2 separate regions of the Homo sapiens genome follow, and region 1 is linked to region 2. Evidence: fine-mapped expression QTL. A gene starts in region 2. The other region holds a variant in brackets. All regions are shown on one strand. Distances are from middle to middle.

Region 1 (5,384 bases), 84 kb after region 2:
TGTAAGAGAGTAGATTTCTGTTGCTTGAAGCCATTCGGTTTGTGGTGCTTTGTTTCCTCAGTTCCAGAAAACCAGTACACCATGCAACATACTCACAGAAGGCTGGGGATTCAGGCATGGGGACCTTGTCCACTATGCCTACCTTGAGTCTGCAACTGAGATGTCAGAATTAGTAGACAAATACATGAAAACAATTCTTTTTTTTTTTTGAGACGGAGTCTGACTCTGTCGCCCAGGCTGGAGTGCAGTGGTGCAATCTTGGCTCACTGCAACCTCCGCCTCCCGGGTTTAGGTGATTCTTCTGCCTCAGCCTCCCGAGTAGCTGGACTACAGGCGTGTGCCACCATGCCCAGCTAATTTTTGTATTTTTAGTAGAGACGGGGTTTCACCATGTTGGCCAGGATGGTTTTGATCTCTTGACCTCGTGATCCACCTGCCTCGGCCTCCCAAAGTGCTGGGATTACAGGCGTGAGCCACCGCGCCTGGCCAGGAAAACAATTCTTATAACTATTCCATATGTTCCAGAAACTTAGAGGAAATGTTGAACATACTGAGATGTAAAAGATGTAAAAAAACAAAATTCTAGAGATGAAAACTATAGCATGTGATGTGAAAGTATATAAAACAGTAGATTAATAGCAGATTAGACATTGCAGAAGAGATTAATGAATTTGAGGACATAGCAATAGAAAACTATTCAAAAGTGGGGCTGGGCGCTGTGGCTCATGCCTGTAATCCTGGCACTTTGGGAGGCTGAGGTGGGTGGATCACCTGAGGTCGGGAGTTCAAGACCAGCCTGGCCAACTTGGTGAAACCTCGTCTCTACTAAAAATACAAAAATTAGCCAGGCATGGTGGTGCATGCCTGTAGACTCAGCTACTTGGGAGGCTGAGGGAGGAGAATCGCTTGAACCCGGGAGAGGTGGAGGTTGTAGTGAGCCAAGATTGCGCCACTGTACTCCAGCCTGGGTGACAGAGCAACACTCCATGTAAAAAAACAAAAAACAAAAAAATCAAAAAACTATGTGAAAGTGAAACACAGAGGGAAAAATGGCTGAAAAGTGACAATAGTGCTGTAGTTTGGATGTTTATTCCCCCATACCTCATGTTGAAATTTGACTCCCAGGGCCAGGCATGGTGGCTCACACCTGTAATCCCAGCACTTTGGGAAGCCTGGGTGGGTGGATCACTTGAGGTCAGGAGTTTGAGACCAGCCTGGCCAACATGATGAAACACCATTTTTACTAAAAATACAAAAATTAGCCAGGCGTGGTGGTGCATGCCTGTAATCCCAGCTACTCGGGAGGCTGAGGCAGGAGAATCACTTCAACCTGGGAGGCAGAGGCTGCAGTGAGCTGAAATTGTGCCACTGCACTCCAGCCTGGAGGACAGAGCGAGACACTATCTCAAAAAAAGAGAGAGAAATTTGATTCCTAGTGTTGGAGGTGGATCTAGTGGGAGGTGTTTGGGCCAGTGGGGCAGATCCCCCAAGAATAGATGAATTCCCTCCCGGGAGGTGGGTGAGTGAGTTCTTTATTCTCATAAGAGCTGGTTGTTAAAAAGAGCCTGGCACAACCCCCTCTCCATTGCTTCCTGTCTTCTCCTGTGATCTCTGCATATGCCAGCTCCCCTTCGCCTTTCGCCACGAATGGAAGCAGCTTGAGGCCCTCCTCACAGCAGCTGTTGGCACCAAGCTTCTTGTACAGCCTGTAGAACTGTGAGCCAAATAAATCTCTCTCTTTTTTTTTTAATAAATTACCCAGCCTCAGGTATTCCTTGATGGCAATGCAAAGTGGGCTAACACACAGGGTATCAGTGATGTAGTTGGTGTTTCTAAAGGAGGGGAGTTGAGAAAAATATTTGGAAACTTAATGGCAGAAACATTTCAAAATTGATGAGAACTATAAACCCACTGATTTTAGAAGCTTAACCAGTTCTATGTACAAGAAACATGAGGAAAACTGTACCAACGCATGTAATCTGATGGCTCAAAATCAGTGATAAAGAGAAAATCTTAAATGCATCTACAAAAAGAGACACGTTAAGTTCAGAGGAGCAATAATAAGAATCACAGCATGTTTCTGGTGGGAAACAATGCAAGCCAGATGACGTTGTGACAGTGTAGCAACAGTGTAGTCAGCCCTCTGGATCTGTGGATTCTAGATCTGTAGATTCAACCAACCACGGATCACAAATATTGGAAAAAAAGATGGTTGTGTTTATAGTGAGCATGTACAGAGTTTTTTCTTCTTATTCCCTAAACAATATAGTATAATTATTTACATAGATTTACACTGTATTAGGTATTGTAAGTAATCTATGGATGATTTAAAGTATATAGGAGGATATGCATAGGTTATATGCAAATACCATGCCATTTTACATAAGGGACTTGAGCATCTGTGGATTTTAGTATCTATGGGAGGTCTTGGAACCAATCCCCTACAGACACTGAGGGAGGATTGTACTAAAAGAAAAATCCCAGCCAGTCTAGTTTTATCCCCAGTGAAAATATTTTTCAAAACAAAGGCAAAATAGTGATAGTGTCAGATACACAAAAGATAAAAATTCATCATCAGCAGAGCTGTACATTAAAAAATGTTACAGGTTGTCCTTCATGTGGTAGGAGGTGGGTAGGAGATAGATATCTAGGAACCGTGAGCTAAACAAACCCGAGGGAATATATCTTAACTCATTTCCTAACTCTACAAAATGAAATGAAGAGCACTAGAAGCAGCAGTTTATATGTAGAGAAGCTTTTTAAAAATCCTGTGTTTAGAAAAGATAATTGGCTGTTTAAAAAGTAGTAACAATGTATTATGAATTTTATTATAGATGTACAAGTAAGTTATATGACAACGATAACACACAGGAGGAAAGCCACGGAAGCACACTGTTGTGAAGTTCTCATGCTCTACGTGAAGTGTTATCTTTTTTTTTCTAAGTGACAGCAAGTTTATTAAGAAAGTAAAGGAATAAAAG[G/A]AATGGCTATTTCATTGGCAGAGCAGCCAATAAAATCATCTGAAGGCAGATTGTGATGAGTTAAAGGCGTATATGATAAACCTGAAGACAAACCAGAAATAGCCCAACAGAGATATAGTGAATAAGTAAACAAAGGAAATAAACTAGAATCATAAAAAATACTTAATCTGTGGGAACATAGAAGAAGGGAAGCTAACACATGGGGCAAATAGAAAACAAAAAGCAAGTTGATAGATTTAAAGCTAACTATATCAATAATCACTTTAAATGTAATGTTCTAAACACTACAACTAAAAGGCAGAGATTATCAAATTGAATATAAAAGCAAGACTGAAGTATATCTGCTTGCAGGATACCCACTGTAAAGACAAAACTAGGTCAATGGCAGTAGGAGAAAAAAGATACACCATGCTAATTTTAAACAGAGCAAAGTTGGAGTGGCTATATGATTATCAGACAAGGGCAAAGAATATTACCAGTCATAAAGAAGATCATTTCATCATGTTGAAGTGGTTTGTTCACCCAAAGAGCCTAATGATACTTAGCATATATCTGCCTAATGACATATATTAAGTACATGAAGCAAAAACGGAAAGTGTAGTCAGAATCACAATTACATTCAGATATTTCAACACCCTTCTTTCAATAATTGATAGAACATATAGAAGAAAAAATCACGATATAGAAGATTTGAATAATACTATCAACTGACTTGACCTAATTAACATTTATAGAACATCCAAGAATAGAATACATATTCTTTTCCAGTACAATGTGGGCATTTACCAAGAGAGATCACATTCTTTGCCATAAAATAAGTCTCAATACATTTTAGGATTTTAAGTCATACAAGATACACTCTGTAAGGACAATGAAATTAAATAAGTGTCAGAAAACTTACCTAGAAACAATCTAGAAGATCCCTGAGTATTTGGTAATTGATAACATACTTTACAATAACTCACTGGTCAAAGAATAATCAAAAGGGAAATTTGAAAGTGCTTTGAACTGAATGAAATGAAAATAAAACATTTTAATATTTGCGGGATGTGTCTAAAAAGTTTTTAAAGGTCAATGTATAGCACGAAATACCTGTATTACAACAGAAAAAAGGCCTCAAATCAGTTTCTGCAGAGTCAACGAATAGATCCCAAAGAAGGGAAATCTTTCTTTAAAAATCTTGAGAGAGGAAATCAATGAAATAGAAAACAGGAAATCACCAAGAAGAACACTGAAATTGATAAACAATGCCAGAATGATCAGCAAAAAAGAAGAGACCAATTGCCAGTATTAGGAATGAGAGAGGTGACATCACTACATATTGAACAGTGATTAAAAGGATAATAATTGCATATTATGAACACCTTTATCCAACAAATTCAACAACTTAGAGAAATGGACAAATTTCCTTAACAGGCAAAAACTATTAAAGCCTTCTCAAATATTCTGGGAATGTTAGAAACATTCTCACAAATAAAGCTTTAGGCCAGGAGGATTTACTGTCAGTTCTATCATATAGTTAAGGAAGAAATAATAGCAGTTCTGCACAGATTCTTCTAGAAAATTGAAGATGTGGGAACATTTCCTAATTCACTGAGGTCAGCATTACCCTCATACCAAAACCAGGCAGACAATACATGAAAACTGAAAGTTTCATGACAGGCCAGTGTCACGAACATAGATGCTTAAGTTCTAAATACAATTTTAGCGAATCAAATGTAACACTGTATAAAAATGATAATACATCATGACTTTTGCAATGCCAATCCATGTGATTTTATTAACGTGCTAGAAAAAAAAAAGTCATATGGTCGTAACAATACATGCAGAAAAAGCATATGACAAAATTCAGTATCCATTTCTGGTAAAATCTCTCAGCAAAGTAGGCCTGAAATGGGATGTTCTCATCCTAATAAAATGCATCAGGCTGGGCGTAGTGGCTCACGCCTGTAATCCCAGCACTTTGGGAGGCTGAGGCGGGTGGATCACCTGAGGTCAGGAGTTCGAGACCAGTCTGACCAATGTGGTGAAACCCTGTCCCTACTAAAAATATAAAACTTAACTGGGCATGGTGGTGTGCACCTGTAGTCCCAGCTATTCGGGAGGCTGAGACAGGAGAATTGCTTGAACCTGGGAGGTGGAGGTTGCAGTGAGCTGAGAAATCGCACCACTGCACTCCAGCCTGGGCGACAGAGTGAGACTCCGTCTCAAAAAAAAAAAAAAAAAAAAAAAAAAAAAGCATCTACAAAAAACCTACTGATAACATCATACTTAATGGTGAAAGACTGGATGCTTTCCCCCTGAGATCAGGAACAAGGCAAGGACATCTGTTCTTACCACTTCTATGTAACATCATTCTGGAGGTTTTTTTTAAAAAAAATAAGTCACTGAAGTTGGAAAGGA
Region 2 (5,384 bases):
TGCCCACCCAATGAAAGTGAAAAGGTACTTCATTTAGGTTTCAATTTGCATGTCCTGGGTATTGTTGAGATGAAACATATTTTTAAATGTTTATTGCCAGCCATGTTCTTCTGATATGAAATGAAACTTCATATCCACACAGCATATCTTGGTGGCCAGGAGGTGTCATCATCACATTTTAAGAACTCTGTGTCTTTTCTCCAAAACTTGTTCTAACTGCAGCCTTCCCCCCCTTTGGTGATGCAACTGTCCTTCTGGCTGCTAAGGCAGATGCCTTGGAGCCCTCCCTGTCTTTCTCTTTTTCTGACCACATCCCCATGTGATAGGAAATCCTGATAGGAAATCCTCCTTTCAAAATGCATTCAGAAACCGACCGCCTCTCACCTCCTCTGCTGCCTCCACCCTGGTCCAGGTCACTAGGCTCTGAATTTCTGCAATAAGTCTTCCTCATTTGCTGTCCAGGCCCTGAGCAGCAGTCAGATCACATCACACCTGTCAATAACCCACAGTGGCTCCTAACCTCTCCCAGAATAAAAGCCAAAGCCGTTACAATGGCCCATGTGGTCTTATACAACAGCGTTTAGGGATGTGGGAAAGAGGGTGTTGGCTGGGGTGATGGAGGTGACCAGGTCACCTATCTTCAGCTGGGCTGGGGCTTATGATGCAGTGGCCAGTGGCCATTGAGGGTCCCTAGGGTCCGTAAGAAAGGGCAAGTCCTAATGTACAAGCACTTTCCTATAGTTTTGTATTTTTCAATGTCCCACTGGCTAGAGCAGGTCACCCAGCCAGGCTGATTCCAGGGCTGGAAAGTAGAGTCCATTTCTTGCTGGGAGGAAGGACAAAGCCAGATGGCAGAGGGTGAGCGTATAGGGAGTGGTGAGTACGTGGCCATTGTTGAAGTTGACTACCCTGGGTTAAGTGTTACAAGTACCAGTGGTGGGTAAACCTCTAGGGATGATTGCATAAAAGAAAATCAAAAGGTCTAGATGGTTGGAGTATTGCATTAAAAAGATGAGGAATACTACATGCATTCACTTTCTGGAATCTGTGTTTAAATGCCATACACTTTAAAATCTAATCTGCTTGCCCTCTGATTTGGAGAGAATTAACCCAGAAATTATCCAGGTTCTTTAGGGCTCCAAGACATTCTAAAAAATAAAGGTGAACGTTGAATTTAACCAGTTGACAGTTGTTCTTGGATTATGATCAATCAGCCTGTGGCAGCAGGGCACATGCTGAGAACAAGCCTCAGGTTCTCTAAGTTCTCCCACCACCACAATGTTCAGCTATAGTGAACTCATAGAAACCGTGTGTCGGGGCCTCCAACTTCGCCAAGCACCATAAGAAGTTTGAGTTGTGAAAAAATTTTCTCTACTCAAAATTGTGAAGAGAAACGGCAAGGTTTAAATTACCACATATTTGTCTTTGAAGAACTTTACAACAACTTCATTGACTGTTAAATTTAGATTCATAAAAATCTAAACAACGGCCGGGCGCGGTGGCTCAGGCCTGTAATCCCAGCACTTTGGGAGGACGAGGTGGGCGGATCACCTGAGGTCAGGAGTTCAAGAACAGCTTGGCCAACGTGGTGAAACCCCGTCTCTACTAAAAATACAAAAATTAGCTGGGCGTGGTGGCGGGCGCCTGTAATCCCAGCTACTCGGGAGGCTGAGGCAGGAGAATCACTTGAACCCAAGAGGCAGAGGTTGTTGTGAGCAGAGATCGCCATTGCACTCCAGCCTGGGCGACAAGAGTGAAACTCTGTCTCAAAAAAAAAAAAAACAAAAACAAAAACTAAATGACATTTGAAAGCAATTTGTAGATTTTCACACTTCCTAAGAATTCTCAAAGATGCCAAAAACAAAAATCGCAGCCACTAGCAATTTAAATGACTTCCTCGTAGCCAAATAAATCCTAAGGTAAAATTATAAACATTCCCTTAAATTCAAATTTTATAACAAAAAGAAAGATAATAGGGAACGGAGGGTGAATTATTGTGTTTGATATATTTGGCGGTGAAAAATACATATATTACGTGCTGTTTAGGGTCCACTGAGAGTCATAAAACTGACCCTAGTGACCGAGCTACCGGAAGGACTTGGCAAGGGTCTAGCGAGCTCGGTTATCTGCGTTTTCCAGGTGGGGCAGCCCAAGACCCTTCTCAGACCCAGAGAAGCTGGGTTTCCGCCCAAAGCCCGGCCCCAAACCACCGATTTCCGACCTTTCAACCTACTTTGGCAGAGCAAGAGTTTCCGCGGGAGACTCCCTGCTTCCCTCTGCCCAGGTCCCCTGAGGCCGAGTGCGGTACTGAGTGCTGAGTAAGGGGTGCCGAGTGCCAAGCACTGAGTAACTGGGGGAGGGGAACCATGCAGCTGTCATAAATAATTAGCTCCTGTGAGGAACAGGAACTCCGAGACTGCGGCCGGGCCAGGTGGGCAGAGGTCGCAGCGCCCTCGCCGCGTTCCCCGTCCCCATCCGACGCCAGGACAGCGCCTCCTTAACTGGGGTAGCCCCTGAGAGCGTGGGCGGAGCCCCGCCCCGCGACCTCAAGGCCCCGCCCCCTCAGCGCCTCCCGGCCCAGCAGCTCGGAAGACCGCGAGGCGCGCTTTTCTGACGCATCGGCGCCTTTCGTCTGACGTATGCCTGCACCGCCCCCTCCCCTCCCTGCCCCGCCCCCGCCCCGCCCCCGACTGCGCGGCGCCCGCCCTCCCTTAGTCAGAGCTGCTCGTCTGAGGCTGCTGAGGCGACGGCCGGTGTCGTGGTCGCGGTACCTGTTCCAACACGGCTCGCGGGCCCGTGCCGGCTCCGGTCCCCGGCGCGGCTGTCCGAGCCCCTGCGGCGGGCGGACGATGGTGTGGCGGAGCACGCGGACGCGGGCGGCGCGGCGGCGGGCATGAAGGAGGATGGAAGGGCAGGACGAGGTGTCGGCGCGGGAGCAGCACTTCCACAGCCAAGTGCGGGAGTCCACGGTGCGTGGGGACCGAGGCAGCCCTGACAGTCCCGCGTGCCCGCCCGGGCCCTCCGTCCCCGCCCCCGGGCCCCCGGTCCCCGGACCCCTCACCTCCGGGCCTCGCCTCGCGCCTCCCGCCCCGGCCTCTGCCGCTCTCCCTCCCCACCCCTCCTCTCCCCTCCCCTCCCCTTCCCTCCCCACCTCTCCTCTCCCCTCCCCTCCCCTTCGCTTCCTCTGCCTGCCCCCCCGCTCCGCTCTTGCCTCCCCTGCCCCCTCGCGCTCCCTCCGTTCGAGCCCCGACCCCGCCCCCGCCCCGCGGCCTCGGTGCTGCCCTTCCCTTCCCGCGGGGAGGGCTGCGGTGCGCGCCGCGCTCTGGGACCCCAGGGGCTTCCTCTCTGGGCGGGTGTGCGGCTCGCGCCTCGGGGTGTGGACGGCGGCCCCGCCAGTGCGCGCCCCCGCGCTCCGCCGCCAGGCCAGGTAGGCAGGTGGATGCGCAGGCGTCCCGGAGAGCCTGGGTGGGCCCGGCGGGTCCGGGAAGGGCCGGGCTGCGCGGAGCCCGCCCGCCTCTCGCGTTTGGACCCGGCCGGTTACCTTGTCCCGGTCAACACCTCCTGCCCTCCTGGCGCCTCACGTTTCCATCCCTCTTTCATCTCCCCCAGCCCCCACGTGGGTTGAGTTCGAAACCTTACCGTTTGGGATGAGAATATTGGTTATTTTTGGGAGTGAGGACCTCAGCAAAAGTCCATTTTGCTATGGAAGCAACTTCTTAGGGAAGCAGCTTCTTTTTTGGCCCATGTTCCATGTGTGCTGTTGGCAGGAGTCAGGAAGCGGACTTGACCTTGGAAAGTCTACTTTGATGTTTTTATCTTTTCATGATGCTCTAGAATGTATTGTAATTGGGTTTATCTGTGTTTTCATAACTGTTGTAAAATATGTCAATTTTTTATGTTTATATTTACGCCTCTCCTAAGTTGTCTACGATTCAGTCACACTTGGTTTGAGGTGAAAAAATTCTGCTTTAGAATTATCTAATTTGTGTACTCACTGATCTTGAAAATTGAGAATCACTTTGGAAGTCATACTTTGAATAAAGAGGACATATAAAGTCTGAGCTGGTGGAATTTGAGTTAGTGGAATTTGGTACACATTTAGTTGTAATTTTTATAATTGAAGCTAAAATACACAGAGATAAGTTCATGTAATCATACATGTACCCTTCAGATCATTTCATACTAAACACGCCTGTGTACTCCTGAATCCACCAGGAGTTTGAGACTGGTCAGCCTGGGCAACATAGTGAATCCCCATCTCTACCATTATAAAAAAATAAATAAATAAACACAATTTTACTAGGATCCCAGAGACTGATTCCTTTCCCTCTTCCAATTACTTTCTCCTCCACCAAGGGTAAACGTTGCCCTGGCTTCTAATATCATAGATTAGTTTTTGCTTAGTTTTGAACTTTATGTAAATGGAATCTTACCGTATATACTCTTCTGTGTCCAGTTTCTTGTACAATGTTTGTGAAATTTCTCCATGTTGTATGTGGTTATAATTCATTCTCGGTGCAGTAGTTGTGTGACTATAGCACAATTTATTTTTCATTTTACTGTTGATGGGCACTTCAGTAGTTTCTAGGTTTTGGCTATGAATATATATATGTGTATATATATGTGTATGTATATATGTGTGTGTGTGTGTGTGTGTGTGTGTATATATATATATATATATATATTTTTTTTTTTTTTTTTTTTTTGTGATGGAGTCTCGCTCTGTCTCCCAGGCTGGAGTGCAGTGGCACAATCTCGGCTCACTGCAACCTCTGCCTCCGGGATTCAAGTGATTCTCCTACCTCAGCCTCCTGAATAGCTGGGATTACAGGCACACACCACCACACCCAGCTAATTTTTCTATTTTTATTAGAGACGGGGTTTCTCCATGCTGGCCAGGCTGGCCTTGAACTCCTGACCTCAGGTGATCCACCTGCCTTGGCCTCCCAAAGTGCTGGGATTACAGGCATGAGCCACCACGCCGGGCTGGCTATGAACTTTTTGTACATAGCTTTTGGTGGACATGTTTGTGCATTTCTGTTGGGGATAGCCCTAGGAATGGAATCCCTAGGTTAAAGAGTGTGCATTTGTTCATCTTTAGTAGATACTTTAAAACAATTTTCCAAAGTGGTTGTACCAGTGTACACTTCCGCCAGTACTGACAGTCTCAGAGGTGTGGTTGTTACTCATCTTTATCAATACTTGATATTTTCTGTCCTTTTTAATTTTAGTCATTCTAGCAAGTGTGTTATAGTGTTCATCATACAAATAATTTTAATTTGCATTTTCCTGATAACTAATGAATTTGAGCACCTGTTTGTTTATTAGCCATTTGGAAATCTTGTGAAGGGTCAAATTTTTTTCCCCATTTAAAAATTAAGTTT

Direction of the effects. Alleles are on the strand shown, and positions count from the first base shown. SD is a standard deviation of normalised expression in the study named.
With allele G in place of A in region 1, the expression in iPS cells of the gene that starts at base 2,714 in region 2 is higher (moderate effect, 0.52 SD a copy in HipSci).

The links. PIP is the estimated chance that this variant, and not a neighbour inherited with it, causes the effect.
Region 1: its variant is the best candidate, but not a certain one, in a credible set for the expression of LMBR1 in iPS cells (HipSci, PIP 0.71).

Annotation. Positions count from the first base shown.
Region 1 is chr7:156,806,434-156,811,817 of GRCh38, reverse strand. The region is part of intron 4 of LMBR1 (limb development membrane protein 1); the gene reads left to right. Among named protein-coding and RNA genes, the nearest start is that of LMBR1, 84 kb to the left of the region's middle. The variant G/A (reference allele first, on the strand shown) is at 2,982.
Region 2 is chr7:156,890,513-156,895,896 of GRCh38, reverse strand. LMBR1 (limb development membrane protein 1) reads left to right here and starts at 2,714. Exons shown (of 17, transcript NM_022458.4): 1 at 2,714-2,969. The coding sequence starts at 2,904. LOC102723795 (a long non-coding RNA gene) reads right to left here and starts at 2,499. Exons shown (of 4, transcript XR_928253.3): 1 at 2,234-2,499; 2 at 385-465. RefSeq lists an enhancer at 111-190 and silencers at 2,493-3,072, 3,123-3,622.